2 linked regions of the Homo sapiens genome follow. Each later gene encodes a partner of the first gene's protein in a complex. Each region holds a gene or a part of one and is shown on either strand. Other genes may lie near its edges.

What was found.
Region 2: the proteins of YWHAZ (region 1) and MAP3K5 are in contact, whole or in part, in a crystal structure (PDB 6EJL), measured with the Homo sapiens proteins. Residues at the interface, in NP_001129171.1 of Homo sapiens: Val46, Lys49, Asn50, Arg56, Lys120, Arg127, Tyr128, Glu131, Gly169, Leu172, Asn173, Val176, Tyr179, Glu180, Ile217, Leu220, Asp223, Asn224, Leu227, Trp228; in NP_005914.1 of Homo sapiens: Ser964, Ile965, Ser966, Leu967, Pro968, Val969.

Annotation. Positions count from the first base shown.
Region 1 is NC_000008.11:100,915,991-100,921,020, forward strand, and holds the end of YWHAZ (14-3-3 protein zeta/delta), read right to left. Parts: intron 4,763-5,030; coding exon 4,703-4,762; 3' UTR 533-4,702; downstream 1-532.
Region 2 is NC_000006.12:136,782,478-136,789,509, forward strand, and holds part of MAP3K5 (mitogen-activated protein kinase kinase kinase 5), read right to left. Parts: intron 3,578-7,032; exon of another isoform or gene 2,938-3,577; intron 1,798-2,937; exon of another isoform or gene 1,570-1,797; intron 1-1,569. UniProt on the Homo sapiens protein: Serine/threonine kinase which acts as an essential component of the MAP kinase signal transduction pathway. Plays an important role in the cascades of cellular responses evoked by changes in the environment.

The sequences.
Region 1 (5,030 bases):
AATAGGCATTTAAAACGAGTTCCCCTCGGGAGTCTAGACATAGCCTATTTTTTATACTCCCACATAGCCCCCAAACCCAAACCTACAAGCACATGTTAAGTTCTTAATTCCCTGCATCTTGATTGTGCTGTATATCCATTTGGGTCCCATTCTGCAAATCTTCACTCAAACATGAATCTCTAAGCGCCCCCCGCCCTTTTTTTTTTTGACAGAGTTTTGCTCTTGTTGCCCAGGCTGGAGTACAATGGCATGATCTTGGCTCACTGCAACGTCCGCCTCTCGGGTTCAAGCAATTCTCCTGCCTCAGCCTCCCGAGGAGCTGGGATTACAGGCACGCACCACCATGCCCGGCTAAATTTTTTGTATTTTTAGTAGAGATGGGGTCTCACCATGTTGGCCAGGCTGGTCTCAAACACCTGACCTCAGGTGATCCACCCGCCTCAGCCTCCCAAAGTGCTGGGATTACAGGCGTGAGCCACCACACCCAGCCAGAATCTCTAAGCCTTTGTAAGAAAACACACAGAACAGCAGCTGGCCAAAGCAAACATCCAATGTTAGAAAATGTAAGCACAAACTGAAAATTCATAGGGTTTTAAATTCTAAAATTCGGAATACTAAGAAGTAATCAATTAAGACCAGTTAGGTTTGGACTTTCAAGGAATGAACTCAAATATGATCAAATATTCACATCTCTGGTATCACCTAGGATTGGCTAACATTATGCTTAAATATATTAACTTGTAACTGCTTCTGCATCCCAGAGACATATATGCCTGCTTGTCTGGCAAGGTTGGACATCCTGTTACAATCTATATTCAGGTCTCTCCACTTTGAAAAGGAACTAGAATCAATCAAGGAGACTGTGACTACTACCAGTCACATAAAAGTATTTAATTAGTTTCACACTTAGAAAAGAATCCAAGTCTATTTTCCAAGTGCCCAGTCTCAGCCACCACTTTACTATTGTACATATTTTCAGTTCTACCATAGTATTTCCTATATGGTAAATGAGAGAATACAATCAAGCCAAATTTATTTCTTGACCTTTCCCTAGAGGAATGTGTAAGACCATCATTGAGCATAGAGCACCAGTTTTCAAAGTCAAAGTTTCACTCTCCATTTGAAGCCTGACTACAAATAACCTAAGATAGCAGCTTCCAAATTGGCTTTGACTCATTTTAAAATATGCATTGAGCCATGACAAGACTGGTGACTCTTTTGCAGGAAAAACATAATAAACAAATTGAGCCCCAAAATTAAGCCACTAGACATATTCTTTCTCTTTCTCCCCCCACCCCCTATAACAGCATGAAGTAACAGCTGTTAACTGGAAAAACAAAGACCATAAGCCAGAGCTGCAGGAAAGCCCATCGTTTTTACTAATCACACTGCTGCTCCACTTTCTGAAGGACAACTCTTAAGTGGCCAATTTAAAAAAAACATACCAGGGTGGGCACAGTGGCTCACGCCTGTAATCCCAGCACTTTGGGAGGCCGAGGTGGGCGGATCACAAGGTCAGGAGAATGAGACCATCATGGCTAACACGGTGAAACCCTCTCTCTACTAAAAATACAAATAATTAGCCAGGAGTGGTGGCACATGCCTGCAGTCCCAGCTACTTGCGAGGCTGAGGCAGGAGAATCACTTCAGCCTGGGAGGAGAAGGTTGCAGTGAGCCGAGATCAGGCCACTGCACCCCAGCCTGGGCGAGAGTTGACACTCCGTCTTAAAAACAAACGAACAAAAAAATTCCAGTACTTTACACACAAAAAGTCATTGGATTTTCCAATTTCCTGGCACTAGGATGTTACATTGACAAAAGCAGACGTAAAGCCTGGATTTGGGACAATCAAGGAATAGTTACAAACACATTATTCAAATTCCAAAACAAAGAATCTCAGGTTGGAAATTTTCCTTAATCTATTGGGAACTACTATGTAGAAAACATTAGTTAATACTAGTGAAGTGTTTTCATTATTCCAGGATCAACCTAGTTCAGATGACTGATGCACATTAAATAGGCAAATGTGCCAAGTTTCAGGTTTTATTTACTTGAATAATATCACATCTCTACTGGGCGCGGTGGCTTATGCCTGTAATCCCAGCACTTTGGGAGGTTGAGATGGGCGGATTGCCTGAGGTCGGGAATTCAAGACCAGCCTGGACAACATGGTGAAACCCTGTCTCTACTAAAAACACAAAAATTAGCCAGGTGTGGTGGCGGGCACCTGTAATCCCAGCTACTTGGGAGGCTGAGGCAGGAGAATCGCTTGAACCCAGCAGGCGGAGGTTGCACTCAGCCGAGATCGCACCACTGCACTCAAGCCTGGGTGACAGAGCAAGACTCTTGTCTCCAAAAAAAAAAAAAACAACAAAAAAATTCCCACCTCTTCAGTCTAGCTATAAAATATAATTACTTTATATATATATATATATATATATATATATATATATAATTATTTTACCTCCTTGGCTTGGGGGTCAGGAGAAATCAGTAAGTGAGGTAAAAGAAAGAGCTGCGAGGGAAAAGGATTGTTGCCCTAGATGCAGAAGGTATCTTTTCTCCTGGAAATAAAGACCCCAAGGTCTCCATTGCACTTTTATTTGAATGTAATATTTGGGACAATTATTCAAAAGGGCCAATATTTCCCAATTTAATCTGAGGTCATAATAAAACAAGCAACAAAACAGTGTTTGGGATTTCAGTTTCTCACCCTTATCATCAAGACTCACTGCCTCCCATCATCAATATTTATTGAGCATTTACAGTGTACTAGGCACAATAGAACATACAGAAAACATTGTCCCTGCTCTTGAGGAGCTTACATTCTAAAAGAAAAAATACACCTTTTTTAAAATGGCATTTTTGTTTGGTGTTTTCTGCAAAGTACTGAGGAAATATTTTGTAAAGTGAGCTTTGGGTATAACTTAGCCCCATCATTATTTAGAGAATAGAGGAGGAAGAAAGAGGAAGGATTTTAAAGGCAGACAATGACAGACCATTCAGGATAGGTAGGGTTTTAAAGGGAGATAAACACAGTCTCATCAACTAAGGAGAGATTTGCTGCAGTAAATAGGATGAGGGAAATAGTCTGTGGGATGCAAGCAAAGGAAGCAGGGTGCCTTAGACACTGAGTGGAGCCAGAAAGATCATGCGGCCTTTTTCCAAGTACATGGCCACCAAGTAAGAATGGTTGGTGACAAGACAGAAGGCTAAAACAGGAAGGTAATCTTGTGCACCTGACAAATAGAAAGAATAAAGGATCAAAATTGAAGGCAGGCTATAAGAGTATCAAGAAATTCTTAAAAACCAAAAAGTGATTTGGAAGCACAAAACTTACAGTTAATGCTACCCAATGTCATGATGGGCCAAGAACATTGTGGCTTCCTAAGTTAGAAAATGCCATATGCCAAAATTTTAAATGGAACACACTACATTTTTTTCTAATCAATCCCCCCCTCTCCCAGAAAAAATAGGAACTCATTTTTTTCAGGGTGGGGAGGAAGAGAGGGGATCATGGGACATGGAAACAGTAGTTATATTAGTAGTATTTTTGTTATGATAAATTTTGTGTTTAAACTTGGTAAGAGCCCATTAGCTGCCAAGAGGGAATAAGGAATAAATTTCAAAAAATGTACAATTTCCTTTAGAGAAGTTTCAGAACCAAGACTAATTTACATGAAAAGCTGTAGAGAAAGTAGTTGAAAAGTCCATTCATAAAACTTTTATTCCACTTACATGAATTTAATACACGTGTTCTTAACAATTATGCTTGGATTGTTCATGAAAATTTCATAAGACATTAAACAAAGCTAGCCATCATCTCAAGTTATTTCCCTGTTAACTATTTTTACAGCACATGCATGTTAGGCAAGTATCAAAAAAAAAAAAATCACAAAAGCAAAAATCCTAAAAAAAAGTTAAATACATGGGTTTTTGTTTTACTGCTGTGCTTGATATACATGAAGTAATGAATACCAAGCAATTCATTTTTCCTGCATCTTTACTTTTACATTTGTTCTTAGGTTGCCTAAAACATTTAAATACAAATAAAATGAGTGTAGCAAAAATAATGAAAGCTAACAGCAGGTAACTTTACAAATAATGGAATGTGAACCGTTTCTGCCCTTATCCAGAGTAAAATGGGTCACAACTTTGTCTAAAGGAACACTTCTGCAGCTGTAGTCAAAGGTGTACACATTGAGTATTCCACAGATATACATGGTTTAATATGTGGTATCCATGGGGTATGATTCTACCACAGCCTTGTAAGTGCTCCAAACCTTAAAGTACCCACAATTACTACACCTGTGACTGGAACCAATGATCCCTTTTATTCCCCGCCAGGACAAACCAGTATGTAGGCAGTTTTCTTTGCTTAGACATGGAAGCAGTTTTACACTGGCCCTTTTGAAGCCACAATGTACCAAAAGTACTATGCCAAACACTTATAACTTGTATAAAAATTCCACATCCCCATATTGGCCACCTCAAGATGAAAACAGATAACTCCCTAAATGTTAACTGGCTCTACTCCCCTAATATTAAACATAAAAACCACATGGGAAATATAGAAATTCAAATAGAAGTAACATAAACCTGTCATAAATCGTAAACAAAAAACTATTTGTGGGACAGCATGGATGACAAATGGTCTACTGTGTAAATTTTAGAATGAGGCAGACAAAAGTTGGAAGGCCGGTTAATTTTCCCCTCCTTCTCCTGCTTCAGCTTCGTCTCCTTGGGTATCCGATGTCCACAACTGGTAAAAGAAGGAAAGATTTTTCAGCAAGTTTCAGTGGGATGGGGGGGGGGGGGCGTTTTCATATAAGTGCCAAGATACCTGAATGTTTTAGTTGGAAAGCATTCTTAAAAAGATAGCAGCATCACTTAGCTTCAAGATACAAAAACATCTCAATATACAAATTTACTTTTTTTGTAACCACTATATAAGCAGGTTAAGTACACCACAGAGTTGCCTTCAAATAACCTTCAGATACAGGAAAGTTTTGGTTATCCACAGAAGGTGA
Region 2 (7,032 bases), on another chromosome or scaffold:
GTGTAGAAGAGGCTACAAGTATTGGAAAGTACTGGTATAACTGGTCTCAACCATTTTTGGAGATTGCCAGTACAAAGGAATATAACTTACTTCCTGTATGAATCATATACCAAAGGCAATTGCTTTCCTCATTGTTGATGAACTACTGTAACAGAAAAGGTCTGCTTATAGTGGAATGTTTTCTGTTACCCTGTGCAACTTCTGTGGCATTTAAGTTATACAGATCTGCTCTACTATGATTTTATTAAATAGGAAATGCCCTTAATATTTAAAATTCTCTCTCCTGTCTCCCCTAAGAAAATTATCACAATGTAGTTTCAGTTATTTCTGTTTTCCTTTGGAAAACCAAAAACACTACAAAATAAAATTCATATGAAATGTAAGTTATCAATTATTTACATTTTTTGAACACTTAGACAAGATTTTGAAAATCAGCTTTGTCTCATATCCTTCCTGCTTTTCCACTAACCTGGCACATATTTCGATTAGTGTCTCTAGTCAATACCTTTAGCCAAAGAGAAAAACTAATACATTAAAACAACTAGGCTAGGCGCAGTGGCCCACGCCTGTAATCCCAGCACTTTGGGAGACTGAGGCAGGAGGATCGCTTGAGTCCAGGAGTTTGAGACCAGCCTGGGCAACATGGTAAAACCCCATCTCTACATAAAAATACAAAAATTGGCCAGGCTTGGCTGTGCTCAAAGCAGGAGGATCACTTGAGCCCAGAAGGCGGAGGTTGCAGTTGGAGCCGAAATCATGCCAACGCACTCCAGCCTGGGTGACAGAGCAAGATCTTCTTAAAAAAAAAAAAAACCCACAACTACACAAACCAATATATCAGAGTCACCAATGGATTTTTAATTTATCATTTTGCCTTGATTTCCTTTATTTCCCTTTTATGCCACTAATAAAATTTTCAAGTTTAATTTTACTCCCTGAAAATGAGGGTATCTTTCTCATATCTAGCCAGTTTCCCCACCTACCTATATCCAAATTACAGGAAGATGAGGCTGTCTTCAAGATATATTTTTCCCAAAGCTGTGGGTTCCCAGTTTCTTCTGATAACCACATAGCTGTGGGTTCCTGCAACACTGCCCACCTCCACCACATTTCCCACTCTCATCTTGCCCCAGGTGGAGCGGGGCAAATGCTGGCATGTTCTACAGCCACAGTGAGGCTTCCATGGGTGACAGAAAGGGGAGCGTGTGATAAAAGGCCCTCGAATGGCCTCCTGGGAGGGGCCATCATTGCACAGCACACTGTCAGCCCTGGAGTCAGTAGCCAATAATGCATTTTCCTATGGTTCTCTACTTTCCTGGCTTGGAGTGGTGTTTGAAGGGACCACTTGGAGGAAGTACTTGGAAAGCAGGCACGGTTGGTACCTCATGCTGGAGAGACTTGCACATTTCCCGGACTTTGTGCTTGTCCATCTCCCACTGCTCCACAAAGAAAGTGTGAACCAATTTTATCCTGCAAACCAGAAACAGGAACTGAATGGGCCTCTAACCAGACCTCTGAAACAGGAAGTAGGGCACAGTTCTTATAGCCACCAGAGGGGAACTGCCCTATAAACAGAGAACTCCCAAAAGGCTGGCTCCAGCCAAGGCCACGGGTGAGACAAGCCTGTGTTATGCGCTTATATAATGCACAGGCTTCACCCAGAGATGGAACCAGCTCGAACTACCAACTGATAATGTCTCAAGCAGACAACAGGTGACCAAATTAAGGAAAGAAACCAGGATCCTGGCAGCCCAGGAAGCAGAGCCGGTCATGACAACATGCAGCTGATGATGTGGGGTAAGAAATTGGTACTCTAAAAACTAATTTTGTGCTCTGGAGTTTTCTTTTTGATTTTGCTTTTTTCCGTCCGATTTTCTAGTTAAGCTCTTTTAAAAAAATTATAGTTTTGCCTTAATTGACCCATTATCCAAGAAAGCAAGAAGCAGCAGTGCTGTCAGTTTGTGTGCGGTGGGTGGCAGCTGCTACAATGGTGTGCCAGGGAACGTGAACAGCTCAGAGAAAAACCATGTGTTGGACACCACTGGGATTTTTTTAAAAAATCCTTCCCTAACTAGAGTTTTCCCTTATGAGTTTATCTACGTTTGCTCTTTTGATAATTTTACTAAGGTTCGTTTCTCACGTGAAGCAGTGGCTGAAAGGTGGGAAGGGGCTGCAGGGCGGTTCCAATCAGAGGCTCTCAAACACAACTCTGTTGACTGGTGTGATAAAGTTTTCACTCATCCTTGGAGAAATGGGAAAAATAAATAACAAGTCATGAGTTTTTGCACACATTTTCTGTATGTGAAGATCTGCCCTTCATTCTAAGGTTATGTCCCCCACTAATTTTTTTTTAACATAAAACTTTCCTTTTTAAGAAATCATGGCAATAGGTGGCTGGTTGTTGATTTTCTTGTCTCTCTGTCTCTCTTTCTCTCTCTCGATTTTCCTCACTTTCTCTACTTATAATACTCTTACTTGGAAAAATTTAAATGTTGGCAAACACATGTCAGTCCTCCAAATTTTTTTAACTGGTTCGTGGGAACCACTATTTAGGACATACAGACTTTACTCTCTCCTTCAAAATATATGAGACAATATACTCGGAAAGTATATTGAAAGTAGAAATGCAGAAGTGGGCTGGACAATTTTCAAGAACTTCTCCATCTGGGATAGATGGGATACAAGGTTATGTTCTGTTTTGTTTTATTGTTTTACCAAATAAGATTAGAAGTCCTAAGGAGCTTTGCTGGAAGCAAGTTGGAGCCAAAGCCTGGCAAGGTCAGATGCCTCTCCAGCAAGATGGCATATTAACACATGGGCGACTTTTGTCACAAGCTCAAGTAAAGTGGGAACATACCATGGATGAGAATAGAAAAGCTAAGTTCTTACAATTTTAACTAGCATGTGCTTCCTTCCTGTTACCTATGATTGCTACAGGGTGAAAGGCTGAGTAAGCGGTTGCAATCTGCAGTGAGCCAAGCTGAAAGGCCCGGGCGGATGTGAAGGCTGGTGGTAAGGAAATGGGAAGCAGGCAGCCAAGCTAACCCTGTGTCCACTGAAGGAGTGAGGTGGCCTTGAGCACAGCAGCATCCCTGGGTCTTACGTCGGCCAGAAGTAGAAAGGGAAGAAGCCTAAAGGAAGTGAAAGTGTTGCTGGATCTCCTGCTGGCATTGCCTCCTCCTTCACACAGCATCCCGGTTCTCCCTGCAGCCACCTGATCTTCCCTTTGTCCCCTTCCTCACCACAGCCCCACCACCTTCACCACTCCAAGTTGATGCTTCTCCTACATCTGGCCAAGATGCTACTCAGAGGTGGATGAAAGCAAAAGTCACTGCTCTAATACAAGAAAAGTCCCGGTTTTAGGTTTCAGAAACAGAATTTTCCCGAATGTTTAAAATGGTGAATGGTTCCATAAACTGTGTTAACCAGGCTTCTTACAGGCTAGTCCCAGAATCTGACCACCATGTGCAATACTGTTTCTAAGAAAAGTGTGCTCCAAGCAAGAACCTTCAAACATTTAACCTGAATGAATGAATATAACCTCTTCACGGTTCAGTGTTTTCATAAGCAAAACAAGAGAATAGCAGCATTGATGTCTTTTAAAAAAAATTTAGGGCTGGGCGCGGTGGCTCACGCCTGTAATCCCAGCACTTTGGGAGGCCAAGGCAGGCAGATCACTCCTGAGGTCAGGAGTTTGAGACCAGTCTGGCCAACAAGATGAAACCCTGTCTCTACTAATAATACAAAAAAATTAGCTGGAATGTGGTGGCACATGACTGTAATCCCAGCTACTCAGGAGGCTGAGGCAGGAGAATCACTTGAACCCAGGAAGCAGAGGTTGCAGTGAGCCGAGATCGAGCCACTGCACTCCAGCCTGCGTGACAAGAGCAAAACTCCATCTCAAAAAAAAAAAAAAAAAAAAAAATTTGGAAAGCTTCCCATTTGGGATCTGTCCACCTACACAGGGCAACACGATAGTATTGACATCTCTTAGCTTTTACGGAATTTTCTGCCTACAATGCAGAGGGCAAAGAAGGGGTATTGTCAGCTTGGCTTTGCTGTCTCTGAGTGACAGTCTCTTGTATACGTAAATAAGATGAATTTTCATAAAAGCATTGACAGAGCATTAGCTTCACCTCAGAAAGAAAATGAAAAAGCAAATGACAACTGTAGTCAAAGAAGAAATTAAAATATAGTTAAATAGTAAACAGATCAAGAAAAAATCAGTGAAAACCTTTAACTTGCAACCTATTCTTTTTAAAGACATCAGTACACAAAGATTGGGAAAGTTTATTAAAAATGTTACCAAACTTTAAGTTCTTCTTTTTTTTTTTTTTTTTTTTTTGAAACAGGGTCTCATTCTGTCACCCAGGCTGGACTGCAGTAGCACGATTTCAGCTCACCGCAGCCTCAGCCTCCCAGGCTCAAGGGATCCTCCCACCTCAACCTCCCGAGTAGCTGGGAATAAGTTCTTACTCACTCCGTTAGGTTGAGCTATTCGAACATCACTGTTTCCCATGTAAACGTTGAGACCTTCATTAGGCTCTCCTTGCTTACCCTGCCATTTCACTTCAGGTGTCACCACCTTTAAGAAGCTACCCCTTGCCAGGTGTGGTGGCTCACACCTGTAATCCCAGCTCTTAGGGAGGCAGAGGCAGGAGGATAGCTTGAGCCCAGGAAATTGAGACCTGCCTAGGCAATATAGCGAGACCCCATTCTCCACAAAAAGGAAAAAAGCAAACAAAAAACAAGCATAAGAAGCTACCCTTGAACCCACTGTATCCTCAATCTGATTTTTGAAGCTGATTCCTGGGAGCCCAGCATCCTGGCACAGAGGCACTGCTAAGGCAAAGGCATTGGTCTGCCCTCCCCACCAACTCTGAGCTCTTCAGGGGCAGGAATATGATATATACAAGCAGTTCATTTAATCTCTACGAGCTGAAATGATTCATTTGTCTTAATAATGCTGTCATTTTAAAGTACAGAATTTGAGAGCTGGAGGGAATCTCAGATACCAATTATTCCAACACTCCACTCTTTTCTGAGGCTTTAAATGACTTGCTCCAAGTTAGAAAAGAATCAGGACCCAAAGCCAAACCTTGAAAATGCTGTTCTAATGCTTTGTGCCTGCATCCCATGCCACCTTGCCTTTGTAAATTCACAGGATTAAATAAGGGAATCCTAAAAAAATGTGTTCAATTCCCCCTTCACTTCTAACCCTGGTCAATTTTACAGGCAAAGAAACACCACTGGAGGCAATGAAGGGCCGTTCTCACAATTACATGGTTCACAGCAGAGCTGGGATGAAAACTCGGATCTAATATGAGGGACCATGTTCTTCCCACTATCTCATAAAAATTCAACTTTCAAGTACAGGTCATGGGTGTAGAGCAAAGGTCAGCATGGCACAGGGGCCAAATCCTGTGGGCCACCTGTTTTTGAGTATGGCTTGCAAGCTAAGAATGGTTTTTACATTTTAAAATGGTTATAAAACAAGAAATCATACTTTGTGAGGTATATGAAGTTCAAATTTCAGTGTCCACGAATAACGTTTGGTTGGAACATAGTCATGATCATTTGTTTAGGTCCTGTTTATGGCTGCTCTTGAGTAATAGGGCAGAGTTGAGAAGTTGTGAAAGAGACCTCAAGAAATGAAACCACACACCTAACACCATCTGATCTTCAACAAAGTCAACAAAGTAAGTAATGGAGAAAGGACTCCCTATTCAATAAATGGTGCTGGCTAGCCATATGCAGAATAAAATTGGACCCCTATCTATCACCATATACAAAAATTCATTCAAGATGGATTAAGGTTTAAATGTAAGACCTCAAACCATAAGAGTCCTAGAAGAAAGCCCAGGAAATACCATTCTGCATCAGCCTTGGGAAAGAATTTATGACTAAGTCCTCAAAAGCAATTGCAACAAAAACAAAAATGACAAATGGGACCTAATTAAACTAAAGAGCTTCTACACAACAAGAGACACTATTAAGAGAGTACAAAGACAACCCTCAGAATGGGAGAAAATATTCACAAACTACGCATTTAAGAAAGGTCTACAAATCAACAAGCAAAACAACAAATAACCCCGTTAAAAAGTAGGCGAAAGATATGAACAGACACTTCTCAGAAGAAGGCATACAAGCAGCCAACAAACTTATGAAAAAATGTTCATCATCACTAATCATCAGAGAAATGCAAATCAAAACCACAATGAGATAACATCTCACACCAGTCAGAATGGCTTTTGTTAAAAAGTCAAAAAATAACAGATGTTGGCGAGGCTGCAGAGAAAAGGGAACACTTACACACTGTTGGTGAGAATGTAAATTTGTCCTGCCACCGTGGAAAGTAATTTGGAGAGTTCTCAAAGAACTAAGAGCTGAACTACCGTTCGACCCAGCAATCCCATTACTAGGTATATACCCAAAGGAAAATAAATTGTTCTACCAAAAAGACACCAAACCAGATATTGAATGTTCTCACTCATAAGTGGGAGCTAAACATTGGGTACAAGTAAACTTAAAGATGGGAGGCTGGGTGCGGTGGCTCACGCCTGTAATCCCAATACTTTGGGAGGCCAAGGCAGGAGGACTGCTTGAGGCCAGGTTTGAGACCTGTCTGGGCAACATAGCAAGACCCCGTCTCTACAAAAAAAACATAGTAAAATAAAATAAAATTAGCCCAGCGTGGTGGCTCATGCCTGTAGTCCCAGCTACTCGGGAGGCTGAGGCAGGAGGATCACTAGAGCCCAGGAGTTCGAGCTAGCAGCGAACCATGATCATGCCACTGCACTCCAGGCTGGGCAACAGAGTGAGACCTTGTCTCTAAAACAAATAAAATAAAATAGAAACAAAGGGTTTGGATAAAACTGATGCACTACCTTCATTCTGTCACATTTTCATGCTTTCATGCTGACTGAGAGGGCACTCATCCTGGGAGTTCATGCCATCCAGATGGGCAGGGGTTAAACTGAGACCTGTCTAGGTTGAAAGAAGCAGTACGAAGGGACAGAGTGGGCGCAGGAA